Linked DNA regions of Homo sapiens. Changing the gene in region 3 together with the main gene of any one other region gives a genetic interaction. Each region holds a gene or a part of one and is shown on either strand. Other genes may lie near its edges.

Region 1 (3,651 bases), on a different chromosome or scaffold from region 3:
GCACTCCAGCCTGGGCAACAGAGCGAGACTCTGTCTCAAAACACACACACACACACACACACACACACCCCTAAAAGATACACACACACACACCCCCTAAAAGATACACACACAACCCCTAAAAGATACACACACACCCCCTAAAAGAGACACACACACACCCCTAAAAGATCTTTGAGACCAGCCTGGGCAACATAGTGAGACCCTGTCTCTACAAAAAATAAAAAATTAGCCAGGCATGGTGGCACATGCCTGTAGTCCCAGCTATGGTGGCACATGCCTGTAGTCCCAGCTACTATGGAGGCTGAGGTGGGAGGATCACTTGAACCTGGGAATTTGAGGCTACTGCGGGCCATGATCATGCCACTACACTCAGTCTAGGTGACAGTGCAAGACCCTGCCTCAAAAAACAAAAACAAAAAAAAGTTTAAAAGACCAATACCACCGCCGGCATGATGGCTCACTCCTGTAATCTCAGCACTTTGGGAGGCTGAGGCAGGCAGATCACTTGAGGTCAGGAGTTTGAGACCAGCCTGGCCAACATGGTGAAACCCTATCTCTACTAAATTACAAAAATTAGTCGGAAGTGGTGGCGGGCACCTGTAATCCCAGCTACTCGGGAGGCTGAGGTAGAATCGCTTGATCCTGGGAGGTGGCAGTTGCAGTAAGCCAAGATTGCACCACTGCACTCCAGCCTTGGCGACAGAGCGAGACTCCCTCTCAAAAAAAGACCAACACCACCAAAAGTTGACAAGGAACTCCCAAACACTAACAGGAGTGTAAAATGGTATAACCACTTTTGAGTTTCTTACAAGAATGTTCACAGCAGCTTCATACATTAGAGCCAAAAACTGGAAATAAACTGGGTGTCCGCCAAGAGGAAAACAGACACAGTGATATGTTCATACCATAGAATAGAAACACAAATAGGAGGGCTGTTTAAAAACCAGCAGTACCCCCAGACAGGTTCACCAGGTGCTCTACACATAAACATTTCCTAGTTGCCTCAAATATACTTTTACATGATCTACACTTCCAGACACAGCTTTTTTTTTTTTTTGAACAGTCTTGCTCCATTACCCAGGCTGGAGTGCAGTGGCACAACCTCGGCTCACTGGAACCTCTGCCTCTTGGGCTCAAGCACTACCAAGCCTGGATAATTTTTTTTTTTGACACGAAATTATGTGTTTACATGCAGGAGGACTGCAGGATGCTGGCAACTGGGAAAGACCAAGTGTCTACTTAAATTTGCACCGGCCAGACAGGTGGCTGTTCTGGTTAAGCCAGTTTGCCAAGAGGCCAGGGGCCTGGCACTCCTTCACCTCCAAGGCCTCCCCATCCTACCTGCACTGGCGGGTCTGCATGCTGAATGTTGTCCTGCAAGTGGCTCATGAGCATGAGGTCGCGGGCCTGGTACCAGCGCGAGTGCAGAGCATGGTGGTAGATGTGGCAGAGGATGGCACATGTGCGGATCCGGTCTGTGCGGTCCTTGGCGTAGATGTACTTGCACAGTCTCTCCATCAACACAGCCGAGTCCTCGCCCTCATTTTCTGCCTGGTCTTGCTCAGACTGGGGAGGAAGGGAGGTTATTTGCAAAGGAGATCCAGCTTTAAAAGGCACAGGCTCTAGCAACTAAAGATGAGACTCTATCCAGTCTCATTCTAATACCTCAGTTTCCCTCCCTGCTCCACCTGCGGAAGTCTAGAGAGTAACAGATTTGCTGTCAAGTCCTGACAGAAGTGGAGGACAGGTGGACACACCCATTCCCCTCTGCCATGACTGCCACGTGCTCACCTTTGAGGAGCCCTCAGGCGGGGTCAGCTGTCGCTGATGGGCCTTGTAATCAAACTTGTAGTAGGTGTGCAGGATGCGCAGCAGGTAGATGCGGCAGACCTCCTCGGTAGTGCCCTTCTCCTCCAGGTAGCGCTGCACACGCTCGATGATGGCACACACCTGGGCCTCATCCTTCAAGTGCTCCACGTACTCTGGCAGGGAGAGCACCCACCCTTGTCTCAGCTGGGCAGCCAGGCTTTCCCATCTGTCCCCACTCATTCCAATCAACCCGTCCCTCTTCTGCACCCGTCAGAAAAGTCTAGTCAGTGTGCCCCAGAAAGGCCATCTCCCACTCCCAGGACCCAGAACCTTCCAGTCCCACAGCTTAGGAAAAAAATCCCAACTGCCAACCTCTGCCAATAAGGGTCTGCCAGGCCTGGCCCTTGCCTGGTCTCCCACGATTCTCCCTCTGGCTTCCTGTGCTGGAGTCCCACTGGCCTTTTTACTCCTGGAACATCAAGCTCGCTCTCTGCTCCTCCTGTCAGGCGCTGTCTTCAGCTGATTCTTCCCCTAACTCCTCCTCATTGGATCTCACCTCAGGTGGTCCCTACTTAAGGGTGCTTTCTCCAGCTGTTAGCTACAGCAGCCACCCCTCCAGCCACTTCTTACCACAGGGCCCTAGTTTAACTCTGAACTTTATATCATCTAGAATTATTATTATTATTTTTTGAGATGGAGTTTCACTCTTTCGCCCAGGCTGGAGTGCAGTGGTGTGATCTCAGCTCATTGCAACCTCTGGCCCGCTGGGCTCAAGGGATTCTCCTGCCTCAGCCTCCCACATAGCTGGGATTTACAGGCACCTGCCACCATGCCTGGCTAATTTTTGTATTTGAGTAGAGCCAGGGTTTTGCCACGTTGGCCAGGCTGGTCTCAAACTCCTGACCTCAGGTGATTCACACACCTCGGCCTCCCAAAGTGCTAGGATTACAGGCGTGAGCCACTGCACCTGGCCCAGAATTATCTTAACATCATACTATTTTTTTTTTTTTTTGAGATGGAGTCTTGCTCTGTCGCCCAGGCTGGAGTGCAGGGGTGTGATCTCGGCTCACTGCAAGTTCCGCCTCCTGGGTTCATGCCATTCTCCTGCCTCAGCCTCCCAAGTAGCTGGGACTATAGGCGCCCAGCACCACGCCTAATTTTTTTTGTGTGTGTGTGTGTATTTTTAGTAGAGATGGGGTTTCACCGTGTTAGCCAGGATGGTCTCAATCTCCTGACCTCGGGATCCGCCTGCTTCGGCCTCCCAAAGAGCTGGAATTACAGACGTGAGCCACCACGCCCGGCCATATCTTACTACTATTATTTTTCAATCTGCCTTTCTCCATCCAGCACAAAAGGTAAGCTTTTGGCTGCCTTGTTAATCACTACACCCTTGACTTGATGGGCACATTCACACTTTTACTGAGTAAACTATGCTGCACTTTCACACCCCAATGCCTCTCATCCAAGCTAAACAAGAGAAGTGAATAGATGCCTTACCCCAAAGGTTCTCAAAGTATAGCCCTGAGACCAGCAACCTGGGAGCAGGCTAGAGGTGCAGGTTCTCAAGCCCCACTCAGACCTATGGAATCAGAAACGATGGGACTGGGAGCCAGCATCTCATCAGGCCCTTCCGTGTGAACGCTAGGTAAGTTGAAAGGCTGGCTTTTCAAGCACTCTGACTTAGTATAATCCTCACAAAGCTCTAAACCTAGTAATATTCCCCACAATTTTCCTCTCAGCAAAGCCCACGCTTGCTCAGGCTCACCTTGGGAGTGAGGGTCAGTATTTTGCATTATTTTGGTAAATTCTTCATCCATTCGTTCCACCAGAGTTAGGATG
Region 2 (3,041 bases), on a different chromosome or scaffold from region 3:
TACAGATATCATATTCTGGTTCAGCAGAAATCAAGAATAGCTTTCATATTTTACTGGTCTACTAATATTCCAGGGAAAGGCTAGGCAGGATTCACATGAACATTTGTCAAGTTCTTAGATGTTAGTGTCTCAGAGATTACATACCACAAGTAAGCTGTAAAATCCTCATTTAACAAGAATGTGAAAGAACTGTGGCGTTCTAGGTATTTTAATTTTTTGAAAAGCTTTTTCTCTTGTATAAGTTTTTTTAATATTGTAAGTCTCTTTTCTATTAGGTTGTCTTTCTTTGCTTACTGAAGGGACTGGTGCCTTGGGGTCTTTATTCTGAAGATAAAAGATTTCTAGGCAGAACTACTGATGCAAAGAGAAGAAATCAGCCTGGATGTATCTGGATTATAGGATAGCTGCTAAAATCATGTTTGTGATTGAAAACCTAAAATAAGCTAATTTGTTTTTTCATGTACCTCTTCCTCCTAAAAGCTAAGTAAACAAAAAGACCCAGCATAAAAAGGATGAGAAGAGATTTTAGTTATTCAGTGTTTTCAGAGTTTCAACAAGGGATACAGATACAAGCAGCTTCTTACAGAGTTTACAATCTGGGGAGAGAACATGAAAGACACTGTTTAACAGGCAAATAATTCCAGGAATAAATATACATGAATGTGTTTTTCAAAATACAGGTTCTTATACAAATGTATAACTAAATACTGATTCCATAGTGGGGTGGTTGTAACTGAAAGGGCTTTGAGAAAAGGCTTTGAATAAAACTAGTCATCCACCTAGCCAAAGATCCTTTCCAGCAGCACAAAAGGAATTTGTAAGGAGAACAGAGATTAACTGTCAGATATCTTTCTAATCTGTAAATTTATCCAAAGTTTGAAAATACCATGAAGAATCTTAGGAATGCCAGTAACCAGGGAATGGGATATTTGCATATCACAACATCTACAGGCTAAATACACTCCGAATGCTTCTCAATGTGGGGAAGTATGAGAAGTTAATAATTCTCCTAGTGTCTGGCTTCCTTTTTCTTTGCCTTTCCCTCTCATACGTTCAATCACCTGTGTTACAGGACACACATAAGTAGTTGGAAGGTGTTAAACTTTGACAGCAAAGCAAAATCAGAGGTAGAGGCAAATGTTTAACCAATCATGTTCAAATATAAGCTACTCAATGAAGAGTTTTAGGTTTAAAGAGCGAAATATTCACCATTACTGAGAAATCTCAGTTTCTCATTCAATTTCGCATTGCACTTTGCTACCACAAACTAAATGGGTGTACATTTTTGAGTGCTGATTTATTACTCAAAGGTTTGAATTTGGAGACTGAAACAAACCATGCTTTATCTGTGTACTTTGAGAAAATCCATCCACAAGAAAGGAGCCAAGCGTCAGTTTCCAATGGGGGGAACATTCTCATGGAGGTACTGTAAGGCTAAGTCTGTCCACTTCATTTCTTGTTCTTTGACAGATTCTGTGGTGCCACCATTGTCTTGTTCAGGTTCAGGAAGCTCATTCTGAAAAGGTACAATAGAAATTCAGAACAGTAATATATTCTGCATCTTCTTGGAACTCAAGAACACTTAGAATTAAAGCTTGTGAGTTCCTAGGAACAGGCAACATAATTGATATGTGTATTCTAAAAAAGCTAAAATCATACACGTGAGGAAACTATCAGAAGTATCATTCAAACATGGCCCGGGCCTTCTTCAGTAGGGAATGATGGGCATTTTGACTCTGACATTTGTGAAGGAGGCACTGTGGCAGAAAGGTTAAGGGCAGAGGCTTTTGGAAGCCAACTAGGATCCAAGACCACAACTCTCCCATTTGCTGGGTTACTTGGGCAAGGTATGCAAACCCTTGGGGCCTTTGTTTCTTCCTTGGCAAATGGGAGAACAAAAGAGCCATCACCTCACAGGACTACTGTAAGGATTAGGTGAGGTAATTCAGATCAAGTGCTGAGCACTCTGTGGGGTATCCAGTGCTCAAGGAATATTTGCTATTATTATTAGCGGCTAGGAACACTGAGATGAGTGAATCCTAAATCTTCTTTAGCGGGAGCGTGCTTTAAAAGAATACTAGTTTGCTGGCATATTCCTTAGACACAAGAAATGTATCCAAAAAATTATCTTGGACCCAACATGTCTTTTTTTTTTGAGATGGAGTTTTGCTTTTGTTGCCCAGGTTAGAGAGCAATGGCGTGATCTCGGCTCACCACAACCTCTGCCTCCCGGGTTCAAGCGATTCTCCCGCCTCAGCCTCCCGAGTAGCTGGGATTACAGGCATGCACCACCATGCCCGGCTAATTTTGTATTTTTTTATTTTTTTTTAGTAGAGATGGGGTTTCTCTATGTTGGTCAGGCTGGTCTCGAACTCCCAACCTCAGGTGATCCACCCGCCTCAGCCTCCCAAAGTGCTGGGATTACAGGCGCGAGCCACCGCGCCTGGCCCAACATGTCTATATTATAATAAAAATGGAGGTAGGGCAGGAAACACTGAAAATGTAATTAATAGATAAGACCTCCCTCTAGTGGTGGAGCAGAGCAACAAAAAACACAACAAATGACCAATTCACACCCTACCAGCAATTTTCTTAAAATGGTAAGTCATGGGCCACACTTACTGTAGGATCTGGGATCATTTACTTGTATTTTAAGTTTAAATGTATTACTACTGAAACTCTGCTTTGTACCAGAGTTCACAGATACCAATATATTTCTTTTCAATTATCTGTGTTTTGTTTTATGGTTAGCAAACTGTTATGCGATATCCAGACTTAAAATTTTCCACTGGATTCTAATTTGTAGTATGTGAATATGTTTTCCCCTCTAAAATTATGCTCAATATATATTAAATGATATTTACTTATCTATATTTGAATCACATACATCTTGTTCTACAAGACAGATTCAAACATACTTGAACAGATTGAGAAGAGCTATCATTTATTGTAACGCAATAATATATTATCTTAAACTTAAAAAGAAAGTTCAGTCCTAATAATTACTTATAGATGACAAAGAATAAATAGGTCCTTGGTTA
Region 3 (4,389 bases):
GTTGGTAAAGGTAGTCAAGGCATCTCTCTTTGGGGCAAACAGAAAGCACTTTACAGAGTGTAAGAAAATAAGAGGTCGGTGTGCCTCTGTTGCCTCATCTTCAATGTATACTCACAACATATGAGCAAATCAAATGGACAGGTGGCAAACCACTGGGTTATTTCTCACTTAAGGGCCTGGGAGTGGGAGAAACTGCTCCCAAAACATCTTTTTTGTATTGACTGGCACCCTGAAGCCCACAGGCCTGGCTTCTACGTATCGAAGAGGGGTCTTGTTCATATTGAAATTAACCCAGATAGTTTGTGTGTGTTTAAAAATAACATACTACTGCAATTTTATTCTAAATGTAGAACTTGAAAGTATTCAACTCATCTTAATTACGCCCAGATAAGCAGTTCCAGAATCCCAAATCCGGACCCTATTTCCGTTAAGTTTGTTTGCAGTTCTGATATCCCTAAAATAGTAATAGTTTTAACGGGCAGTGGGATAATAAAGGGAGGGAATGAATTTTTAGACAGGATACAGATTTGAGTTTAGTACTCAGTCGGTAAAGCAATCTCTAATCAAAACACCCTTGAAACTTTTTAAAAATCAGGTTCAGAATTTAAAGGAAGCTCTTAAAAGTCATATATATTTGCAAATTATATATGGCATTTTTCTGAATCAGTCTGGTGTCCTGAAACACAAAAGGTATTTACTATGATGGCTCTATGTTTGTCTTGAAATCCCAGTGCAGGTTTTCAAAAAAAGGTTTCATTATCTACTAAACTCTACCATGACAAAGATCTCCTTTTCACCACATAGTTCAATTTCCACAAGTGTCAACAACTTTACTGTAAAACCTAGCCTTAAGTCTGAACATCTATGTAACAATTATACAAAGCACTTGTCTCTCTTTAGGCATTTTTGTGGTGTGTTTTCAATACAAAATGTAATCCACTAGCTTTGGGGAAAAAAAAAAGGCACGCATTTTCAAAGAATCTTGTGGTATTAAAAAGAATCTTAAGGTTCTATTTTTCTCCTTCAATCTTTGTTACTTTTTGAACTAAATTTCATTTGCCAGGTCTTAAAAACTAAAAGCGTTTTTCATTGTGAAGTTACATGTACCTCTCGTCTTGAAAATCTGACAGACTTGGAAATTTCTATCAACTTTAGTTTTTAAAAATTATGTAAGCACACAAGATTTATATAACAAAGAACAATATTTCACTCTGATGTACAGAAACCTGAGAACTGGGGAAGCAACCCTACTTCTACAAGCAATGGTACCTACAGAATTTACATATATACATAGGGTGGGGTGTAACCCCTCAAAAGGCGCTTTGGGTACTTAGGGATTCAAGCAATAATTTGAAAAACAGAGAAAAAGTACAATTGTCTACCCATACTTACTTGTAAATCTTTCTTCAATTTTAGCAAATCTTCATTTTCTCCATTTCCAGATAATGCAGCTTCAACTTGCTGGAGCTGAGCTTTGTAGCTTGCCAGCTGCTTTGCTAAATCCTCTGACATCTAGGGAAAATAAAAAGGGTTAGACCATGAAAACTAAACCAAAAATCAAGGCATAAAAAACTAACTCCCCTGTCTGCCTGAATTACCAGTTTTTGCCTCTAACTCCTTCTAACACTGCAGCTTAATTTACCACCATTACCTTTACTCTCAGTTTAGACTTCAGCTAAACCACAAACTTAAAGGCAACAGATTCTGAGGATTATAAACTTGAGATACATTCCATACTTTAAAAAAGCATACAGATACAAAGAAATTTCTAATTTTCTTTTAACTCCTATCCACAGGGTAGGTGCTGAATTCGGCTCAATAATCAGTGTTATCTTTTTAAAAAGCACTACTCTGTTGGAAAAGTCGAAACTTTCAAAAACAATCCAAATACTTATTTTTAAGCACTACAGTATGCTTCCAAAGCCAAACAAGTGCGTTTTTAAATTAACTACACAAACTACGATCTTTACTTGAACTATTCAATTAAGAGTGTATTTAAAAGTGCCTCTCCAAAACAAAAATCTTTCGCCCAGTCGCTTAAATATTTATCGGTGCATTATCTTCAGCAAAAAGAACAGCACAGGTACTCTCCCATTTAGGCATTCTAACGAATGTGCCTTTCGCCAAATCCAGCTCAGTCATTTTCCTGAAAATAAGATACCAATTAACCTTTTTTGATGGTTTATAAGCAAATGTACCACGTTTCCGAGGACCCTTCTCCTTCGTAAAATTCCCGTCCAACCAAAGGCTGGGAGCCTGCAAAGGCCCCCTAAGAGTTACAGCGACCCAGGCTGCTCTCCTCCCCGCCACGCAGCACCTCAAAGCCCGCCACAACTCGATCATTCGGACGTGGAAATCCACACGCCAGCTCCAAGACCACCGCCGGAGCCCCGCCGCGCTCCAACAGGCAGGCTCCACAGGGAGCCGCGCGGCGCCCAGCCCCACCCGACCCGGTCCCCTGCGGGCCGTGTTTGCCGCCGCCGCACGGAGGCCAGCGCCGGCCGGGCCGCCGAGGCTCAGCTCTGGCTGAGAGACGGCCGTGGCTCCGGGATCCAGGGCCAGCGCCTGGGCGTCTCCGGCGAGGCGGGCTCCTCAGCCTTGGGCCTCCGCTTCACCTCGGGAGGGACCCGGGCCCGGCCAGGCCTTACTCTCTCCCTCAGGGGGGTTGTTACCTTGTGTGGGGCTGGGGGCGGGGCGGCGGGAAGGGGTCGGGGCAAATGAGCCCAGTGGTAGTGGCGGTGGCAGCAGCAGCAGTAGCAGTAGCAGGAAAATCACCGCGACGACAGCAAGGCGACCCGGTCTGAAAAGGAAGAACTCGGTCGGCGGCGAGGGGGAAGGGAGGAACGCCGGGCACTGGAAGGAGGAAAAGACAGAGACGGTGAAGTCTCGCGAGAAATACAAACTCTCGCGCGAGGTCGCTCGACTCACGTGACTCCGCGCGCCCTCTAGCCAGTCCCTGGCTGTCAGGGACACGAAGTAGGCGGGGCCTAGGAAGGAAATGGCGTAGCTGGGCTTCGCCAGGCGCGGAATGCAGGTTATCTTCCTGGAGTTCCGGCTTGGAATTTATTGGAAATGCAAATTCTCAAGCCCCACCCCAGACCTCCTGAATCCAGAGACTCTTGTTTTAATAAGCTCACCAGATGATACCAATGTCCGCTGACGTTTGAGAACCACTGCTTTTCCGGGGCGGTGGTGGTGGGTGGCGGGGGGTGTTGGTGGGGGCTCTCTTTACGTTGCCCTGGCTGGTCTCCAGCTCCTGGGCTCAAGCTATCCTCCTGCATCGGCATCCCAAAATGCTAGGATTACAGGCGTGAGCCACCGCGCCCAGCCTGAGAACCACTACTTTATATGATACAAGCCTTAGTAGTAACAGAAAGCTAATTAAATCGTGACAGAAATAACCTATTGGAGAGAAGATTGATTTCTTTAAAATCTGTTTTGTTAAAACCTACTTGGTTTTAATTTAGTTGGGTTAATCTCGCCTGATAGGGAACAACGTCCAAGTTAGTCTAGAATGGTAAAGAGTGGTAGGAATACTCACATTTGTGTTCAAAAAGAAATGCCCCTTGTGTATGTTTGTAATAATATATACGCTTTCTGGACGGATACACAAAACTGTTCAGAGGTTTGGAGTGGAAGCCAAATGTTTTATTGATTACCCTCTTTGCTGTTTACCCTTTTTCCTTTTCTTTTTTTTTTAAACCATATATATATAATTTATTTCAATTAAAAAAGCAATAAAGGCCTGAGACACAAAGTTTTATATAGATGACAGGAAGCAACCTTTCCTGGGAGGTTGGGAGTTTGTTGCTGGATCCATAAAAAGGCCCACTTCTCGCGGATCACCTGAGGTCAGGAGTTCGAGACCAGCTCGACCACGTGGAGAAACCCCGTCTCTACTAAAAATACAAAAAAAAAAAACCAACAACAACAACAACAACAAAAAGCCGAGCATGTTGGTGCATTCCTGTAATCCCAGCTGCTCGGGTGGCTGAGGCAGGAGAATCGCTTGAACCTGGAGGCGGCGGTTGCGGTGAGCCGAGATCGTGCCATTGCACTCCAGCCTGGGCAGCAAGAGTGAAACTCCGTCTCAAAAAAAAAAAAAAAGGCCCACTTCTCAGATGGGCTCTTTTGAACTGTGCCAACATCTTTAGTTCCTAGTTTTCTTTTCAAGGAGCCTTCCCTTTTGTTCTCTACACACACACACATAACCCTTGCAGTGAGTCAGATAACCTGTATAGATGGAAACTAGGTCGGGTTTGTGAGTGTGAAAGATTGAAATTGCAGCAGAGGGCAGCAGTGTGTAGCTAGAATTAAGAAGGCAGACAAAACAGAAAGCATGTGCTTTTAAATAAATATTCGTTTAAAATAAAATGTAGTTTTAGAGAA

What was found.
Region 1: changes in SMNDC1 (region 3) and EIF3C together harm fitness less than expected from each alone (positive genetic interaction), as found in Homo sapiens cells (one large-scale study listed by BioGRID).
Region 2: changes in SMNDC1 (region 3) and ANAPC13 together harm fitness more than expected from each alone (negative genetic interaction), as found in Homo sapiens cells (one large-scale study listed by BioGRID).

Annotation. Positions count from the first base shown.
Region 1 is NC_000016.10:28,724,939-28,728,589, reverse strand, and holds part of EIF3C (eukaryotic translation initiation factor 3 subunit C), read right to left. Parts: coding exon 3,578-3,651; intron 1,986-3,577; coding exon 1,795-1,985; intron 1,570-1,794; coding exon 1,345-1,569; intron 1-1,344. UniProt on the Homo sapiens protein: Component of the eukaryotic translation initiation factor 3 (eIF-3) complex, which is required for several steps in the initiation of protein synthesis.
Region 2 is NC_000003.12:134,477,200-134,480,240, forward strand, and holds the end of ANAPC13 (anaphase-promoting complex subunit 13), read right to left. Parts: intron 1,517-3,041; coding exon 1,391-1,516; 3' UTR 507-1,390; downstream 1-506. UniProt on the Homo sapiens protein: Component of the anaphase promoting complex/cyclosome (APC/C), a cell cycle-regulated E3 ubiquitin ligase that controls progression through mitosis and the G1 phase of the cell cycle.
Region 3 is NC_000010.11:110,302,076-110,306,464, forward strand, and holds the start of SMNDC1 (survival of motor neuron-related-splicing factor 30), read right to left. Parts: upstream 2,846-4,389; 5' UTR 2,673-2,845; intron 1,513-2,672; coding exon 1,393-1,512; intron 1-1,392. UniProt on the Homo sapiens protein: Involved in spliceosome assembly.